Linked DNA regions of Homo sapiens. The protein of the gene in region 1 interacts with the protein of each later gene in a pairwise test. Each region holds a gene or a part of one and is shown in the gene's direction. Other genes may lie near its edges. The genes, in order: CNRIP1 and GCH1.

Region 1 (3,828 bases):
GTAAGAATTTCATGTAAATGGAACAGTGCTGTTTGACTTCTTTCACTTAGTATAATGTTGAGATTCACCTATGTTGCACATATCAGTAGTTGGTTCATTTTATTTCTGGGTAGCATATTATGTTGTGTGGATATACCATAATTTCTCCCTTTACCAATAAATGGACATCTGGGTTGTTTTCAGCTTTTGCTATTATGAATAAAGCTGCTGTGAACATTTGAGTATAAGTCTCAGTGTGAACATATTTTCATTTCTCTTGAGTAAATACCTAAGAGGACAATTGCTAAATCACATGGTAAGTATGTGTTTATCTGTGTAAGAAATATCCACACTGTTGTACCATTTTGTATATCCACCAGCAGTGTATGAGAATTCTAGTTGCTTTACATACTCAATGTATGTCTTTTTAATTTGGAAATTCCAAAGACATAGAAGACCCAAAACAATCTTGTTTGATCTATATTGTAGTCCTTAAAACAGGTAGCATAAATCTTCTAGCTTTGTTTATTCTAAGTTCTTTTGCTTAATCTAGGTCCTTTGTGTTTTATATAGATTTTAGAATGAGCTTGTCAATTCCTCCAAAAATTGGGATATAGAGTTTCCATTAAACCTATAGGTCAACTTAAAGATATTTGACATCTTAATATAGAGTTTTCTATACCATGAACATGAAATATCTCTTAGGTCATCTTTAATTTTCTCCACAATATATTACAGTATTTCCTCTACAGACTTTATACATATTTTGTTAAATTTATTATTTCATATTTTTGAATAATGTAAATGGAATCTTTGCTGGTATATGGAAATAAAATCGATTTTTTTTGTATATTGATATTGAATCCTGAGACTTAGCTAATCTCACTAATCCTAATAGCTGTTTTTGGAGGATCCCTAGGATTTTCTAAATATGCTATCATGTCATCTGTAAATAGTTTCTCTTTTCTTTCCAATCTGTATTCATTTTATTTATGGCCTAATTGCAATGGCTAGGACCTTCGCAGTATGCTGCTAAATAGAAATGGTGAGAGTGGACATTCTTGTCCCTCAGTCTGAGAGAGAAAGCATTCTGTTTTTCAATACAAAGTATAGTAGCTGTAAGGTTCTTTATTGTAAATCTTTTTATCAGGTTAAAGGAGTTCTCTTCTATTCCTGGTTTACTGAATGTTTTTTTAATCATGAACGTATTATAACATGTTTTCAAATAGTTTTTCTGTATCTTTTGAAATGATCATAAGGTGTTTTATTCTGTTTATGGTAGATTACCTTGCTTTTTCAAAGTTAAAATAACCTTGAATTCCCAGGTTAAATACCACTGGTCATGGTTTATTCTCGGTATGTAAAACTGGATTTGATTCATTAATATTTTGTTAAGGATTTTTGACATCTATGTTCCGGGGGGGATATTTGTCTATGGTTTGCTTTTCTTATAATGCCTTTGTCTAGTTTTGGGTATCAGAGTAATGCTGGCTACATAAAATGATTCGGAAAGTGTTCATTCTTCTATTTTCTGGAAGAGTTTATATAGAAATGATATTTTTCTTAATGTCAGAATTCACCAATGAAGGCATAGATTATACTTTATTTGAAGATTTTTTATTACAAATTCAATTTCGTTAATAGATATCGGGCTATTCAGGTTTTATTTCCTGAGTTTTTGTAATTTATCTTAGAAGTCATTTATTTCAATTAAATTTTCAACTTTATTCCCATAAAGTTGTTTATAATCTCCGCCATTCTTCAGTGTCTTAGGATCTCTAATAATGTCTACTCTTTTACTCTTTGATCCTTTTCTTTTTTTTTTTTTTTTTTTTTTTCCCCGGAGATGGAGTCTCACTCTGTCTCTCAGGCTGGAGTGCAGTGGTGCAATCTCGGTTTACTGAAACTTCTGCCTCCCAGATTCAGGCAATTCTCCTGCCTCGGCCTCCCAAGTAGCTGGGATTACAGGTGCGCACCACCATACCCAGCTAATTTTTTGTATTTTTAGTAGAGATGGGCTTTTGCCATGTTGGCCAGGCTGGTCTCGAACTCCTGGCCTCACAAGATCCGCCCACCTTGTCCTCTCAAAGGGCTCAGATTACAGGTATGAGCTGCCGCGCCCGACCTACTCTTTCACTCTTGTTATTCAAAATTTTTATTTTTATACCCTCTGATTAGTCTAGCTAGAGATTTCAGTTTTATTGGCCTTTTCAAAATCCTAGCTTTTTTTTTCACATGCTTCACTCTGTTTTTCTACTTCATTGTTTTCTAATCCTATATTTATTCCCTTCCCTTGTTTGCTTTGAAATATTTTAACTTAAGTATAATACATATACAGTAAAATGATCCCTTCATAGAGTTCTTTCTGCTTGTCAGTAGTTTGGTTATGATGCATCTTAACTGGTTTTTCCCCCCTTGGGGATCACTGAATTTCTTGAATCTAGAGGTTAATGTTTTCACCAAAATTGGAGTATTATTAACCATTGTTTTGTTAAATACTTTTTTAATACTTCATTCTCTCCTTTCTTTGTAGGACCCCAACTAAACATATGTTGAAAAGCTTGGTATTATCCCATAAGTCTTTGAGGACATGTTCAATTTTCTTTCTTTTTTTAATGGATCTTCAGATTAGATCATTTCTACTGATGTATCCTTAAGTTCACTGATTCTTCTATTTCTAGTCTTGTGCTTATCTTCTAAATTCTATAACATTTTTTAGCTCTAGAATTTTCATTTGTCTTTTTTATAGTTTCAGTTTCTCAAGATTCCTTATGTTGGCTAATTGAGACCATGTTTTCCTTAATTTATCTGAGCACATTTGTAATTGCTGGTTTGAAGTAGTTAATAAATCCAACACCTGGCTCTAGTTAGAGTAAATTATTACAGCCTGACTTTTTTTTTTTTTAATATGGGTCACACTTTCATGTTTCATTACATGTCTCGTAATTTTTGGCCACAAACTTAACATTGTGGATAGTTTATTACCAACTCTAGTTTCTGCTTTATTCTTCTGGGTATTACTGGTTTTTTGTATTCTAGCTGGCAGTAAACATTCCTGTACTCAAACTTCAAATTCTATCTTCCAGCAGTATGCAGCAGCTGATCTCTTTGCTCAGTTTTTATAACTTCCAGTTGCTGCTTTTCTAGCCTGGTCTCCTTTTGTGCCCATGGAGCTTAGCAGTCAGCCAAGGAACTGGAGAGCTTATACTGAGATTTTTGGATATACCCACCCTGAGGTTCCCCTATTTCTCCAGCTGCTCTATCAATCCAAAACTGTTTTGCTTTATTTGAGATGGAGTTTCACTTTTGTTGCCCAGGCTGGAATGCAGTGGTGCGATCTCAGCTCACTGCAGCCTCCACCTCCCAGGTTCAAGCGATTCTCCTGCCTCAGCCGCCAGAGTAGCTGGGGCTACAGGCGCGTGCCACCACACCTGGCTAATTTTTGTATTTTTATTAGAGACAGGGTTTCACCATGTTGGCCACGCTGGTCTCGAACTCCTGACCTCAAGTGATCCACCTGCCTCGGCCTCCCAAAGTGCTGGGATTACAGGAGTGAGCCACCGTGCCTGGCCAATCCAAAACTCTTTACTCTGATACCTACTTCTGAGGTTAGGGAATGTACTCAAAATACATGCATGCATACATACATACATACATACATACATACGTAAATATAAAGAAGCTATTAATCTTAGCACAACTTTATCTTTCAAGGATTGACTTTTTGCTGGTTTGTCTGCTTTTTCAATGGCCCCTGTAGGGTGTCCATGTCCCACTATCCTTCATATGCAGTTAGCTAGGGATTACAGCAGAGTTTATAGTCAGATTTGGGGTTCTATTCCTTCTGCA
Region 2 (3,828 bases), on another chromosome or scaffold:
CTTTTTTTTTTTTAAAGAGATATATAATTAAAGAGAAGACAGAGTAGTGAGAACAAGGATGATGCTGAACTTAAAGGAATGAACCTGAAATGTGGTGGGGTCTTGGACCAACCTGGATGGCAGGGAGAAGGAAGGATACTGGTGGGAGATAGGAGTGAGTGGGAACCCACATCTTTAGGTCCATAAACGCTTCTGCACAATCCCTTTTATTTCTTTAGAGAGCATGAGTCAAGTGGCCACTATATATTGTTTTTGGATAAGAACATACTTCTCTGAAGGTCACTTTTCTGTGCTTGTAAACAGGATACAGGACTTTATATCTTTTATATATCTGTATTCTATATATTAACTCCTGGTTAGTAATGTTGACTTAAGTGTTGTAAAATTTAAAATAAGTTGGTATTTTACATTCTTCAAAATCCATTTTTCCTCCCAGTGCCTCTTGTGTGGATTGATCCAAATTCCTGGCATTCTGGGGAATTTGTTCAGTTTTCCCTACGTTGCAGCGTCTCTCCATGACTGTCTCCTTGTGCACCTTTTCCCTACTTTCCAGTGTGTACCTTCCATGGGAGCATCTGTGGTCATCTGTGACCAGGGTGGTGTCAGGGTTGTATAGGTTTCCTAGTACTATTCCCTACTGGACTGTAGCTCATGGGCTAGGAGGGAGGGCTGGAGGAGACGCTATCATCTCTCCCAGGAACTGGCTGTCCTTTGAATCTACATCACAAGCTGATCCTTGGACCAGCTCAGACCAGCTCGTCTTGATCTATTTCTGTGCCATTTCAGTTTAGCTGTATCCTAGTTCTCTTAAATATTCAAGGTTTTATCTTGGTGAGTTCTCCTTTCTATATAAGGTACCTTTCCTGTATTTCCACTATTCTTTTATTCAGAACCTACACTTAGTTAAATTGGAGAGTCTGCTATTCTCTGAGGGCCTTGATCTTCATGCCCCTGTAACTGACCCTTCCAGGTATACATGGGAACAGCCTTTCAGACAGCATTATCTACCAAGGATTAAATGGGTATAACTTGTTCCATCAGTTGTTTTTTATGAGTTTTTGGGAATATGCAAGAGTCTTGACTCTGTCACATTTCCAGTTAAAGTAGGTTTTAGCTTGTCTGCCAAGACAGTTTTTATAAATCATGTTAACAGTTCAAAATTTTGGGAAGCATGCATATAATCCAGCGTGAGGAGATGGCATTGGAGATGGCTGACTGCTTCCCTGTGAGGGCTGAGGAAGCACAGACACTGGCAGTGAGTCATATCCCCACCTCAGCCATTTTCACTGGAAGATTATGTCTATTCGCTAAAGATAATGGGAGGCAATTAGATACTTTGTTTATACAAAAATGCATCTTAGACACTTCATACTGAAATGTAGCAATCACAAAAGGTTTTTCTTTTTGAATCACAAACCTCTCGGATTTATTAAATTAGACTGCTGTGGTGAACTAAGAATTTTAACAACTTCTAAGATGTGAAGAGGAACAAAAACATAAACTATTTACTATTCTCTCCTATATCATGGGTGAAAGGTGAGTTTATATCCCAAGTTTTAAAGTATATTATAGAAATGCTCTTCTCATCATTAAAAGGTACTATTTTAGATGTGTAGCTCACTCAAATTTTGATCCATTAATAATTTTTGTGCTTGGTTTGTTAATGAACACTTATATAGGACTTAGTTGTGTTCATTGCCAGAAAGAGCACTGTGAATAAAGAAGAAAAAATAACAAGGCACTTTTGACATATTATATGATTGGAATTTTGGACATGTCTAAGTGGAATAAAACAGTTAAGAAGTTACTGAGAAAGGGGGAGAAAAGCCAATCCTAATAGTTTCTTTTAAAAATGGATTATCTATAAACAATTTTTCTGACATGGGAAGAAAAATCAATATACATAACTTCACTATAGCAAGCAAAGCCTTCAGGTTGGTACTCGTACTAGATTCCCAGGGCTGCTATCACACAGTACCGCAAACTAGGTGGTTTAAATGACAGAAATAAACAGTCTCACAGTTCTAGAGACTAAAGTTCCAAAATCAAGGGGTCAGCAGAACCATACTCACTCCAGAACCTGTAGTGGGGGAGGCTGTCCTTGCCTCTTCCCAGCTTCTGGTGGTGGCCGTCAGTTGATGGTGTTCCTTGGTTTGAGCTGCGTCACTCCAGTCGCTGCCTCTGTCAGTGTCCATGTTTTTGTTTTGTCTTATAAGAATGTCAGTCATATGAGGCAGGGTCCACTTTACTCCAGTATGCCTGTGTTAGTTTAGCTAATTACATCTGCAACAACCCTACTTCCAAATAAAGTCACATGCTAAAGATACCTGGGGTTTAGGACTTCAACATATCTTTTTTGGCGAATGGCACAATTCAACTTGTATTAGTACTAAATACTATTATTAAAAAAATTAGTAGGAATTTTACTACAATTTCATTGATCATCAAGTACTACGCACTTCACTGAACGCTGGGAATGCAGGATGAGCAAAACCAGGTATAGTTCCTGCCTTCATGGAACTTACAGCCTAGCAGATAGAATCACATGAAATAGAAATGTGTTGTGAGATTGAGAAATGTGATGATAAACAAAAACACAGCTCAGTGAGAGCACTTGGCATAGGAACTTGACCAATGCCAGGAGATGGGAGCATGAATGGGTGAAGCGATGCTTAAGCCGACTGATGTTCTGAGTAACAAATACTGCTGATGGCTTACTTTGTGCTAAACAGTGAGTTTTTACATGTGTTACCTCATTTGATCCTCACAGTAGCACGATGGGGTAGGCAATATTATTCCCATTTTATACATAAGGAAATTGGGGCACAGAGAGAACTTTCCCAAGACTGTATCTTGAAAGTGGCGGAGCTGAGAGGATGATATAGAAAGAGAATCATTGTAATCTCTGGTAGGTGATTTAATTTTAATAATAATATTTTACTGATTTATTTGAATGATTTCTCCCTTCTTCCTCACCTATCCCCGCTTTTGTATTTTCTCTGCTATTTGCTTTGTCCACCTCTAGAAACCCTTCCATGCCTGGGCATTCCCCACCTGACTCATTTGCCAGTGATTTCTATATGAGGACTGTAATTTGAGTCTAGTATTTGGTTGAGTAGACTGCAGTGTTAAAACTCACCAGGAGAGGGCAACTGTCTAATCATTGGATCCCAGATTATGAATCCTGGATTATGTGAACAATTCTCAGTTCCAGGTTATGCAAACAAATATGTTTCCCATGGTTATAAATTTGCTAGAGTCTATAGTAATTAGATTGGGATATAATTTGTGTTGGGTTATGCAAAGAGTATCTGAACCAAGTTAAATCTGTTATACTCAAGGCCAAGAGGACATTCATTTACTAGAATTTTATTCTATTGGAGCCCATTAGTAGAAATATTTATTTATTTGGAGGCAGAGTCTTGCTCTGTCACCCAGGCTGGAGTGCGGTGGCATGATCTCAGCTCACTGAAACCTCTGCCGCCCAGGTTCAAGCAATTACCCTGCCTCGGCCTCCCGAGTAGCTGGGATTACAGGTGCCCACCACCATGCTCGGCTAATTTTTGTATTTTTAGCAGAGACAGGGTTTCACCATGTTAGCCAGGTTGGTCTCCAAGTCCTAACCTCAAGTGATTGGCCTGTCTCAACCTCCTAGAGTGCTGGGATTACAGGCATGAGCCACCGCACCCGGCCGGAAACATACAATGTTTGTCCTTCATGTCTGGCTTATTTTACTTTGCAAAATGTCTTCAAGGTTCATCCACATTAAAAACATCTATTTTATTTTTATTTTTATTTTTTGAGATAGAGTCTTGCTCTTCCGCCCAG

Evidence for each region.
Region 2: the proteins of CNRIP1 (region 1) and GCH1 interact in a two-hybrid assay, tested with the Homo sapiens proteins (one study listed by BioGRID and IntAct).

Annotation. Positions count from the first base shown.
Region 1 is NC_000002.12:68,309,769-68,313,596, reverse strand, and holds part of CNRIP1 (CB1 cannabinoid receptor-interacting protein 1), read left to right. Parts: intron 1-3,828.
Region 2 is NC_000014.9:54,892,662-54,896,489, reverse strand, and holds part of GCH1 (GTP cyclohydrolase 1), read left to right. Parts: intron 1-3,828. UniProt on the Homo sapiens protein: Positively regulates nitric oxide synthesis in umbilical vein endothelial cells (HUVECs). May be involved in dopamine synthesis. May modify pain sensitivity and persistence.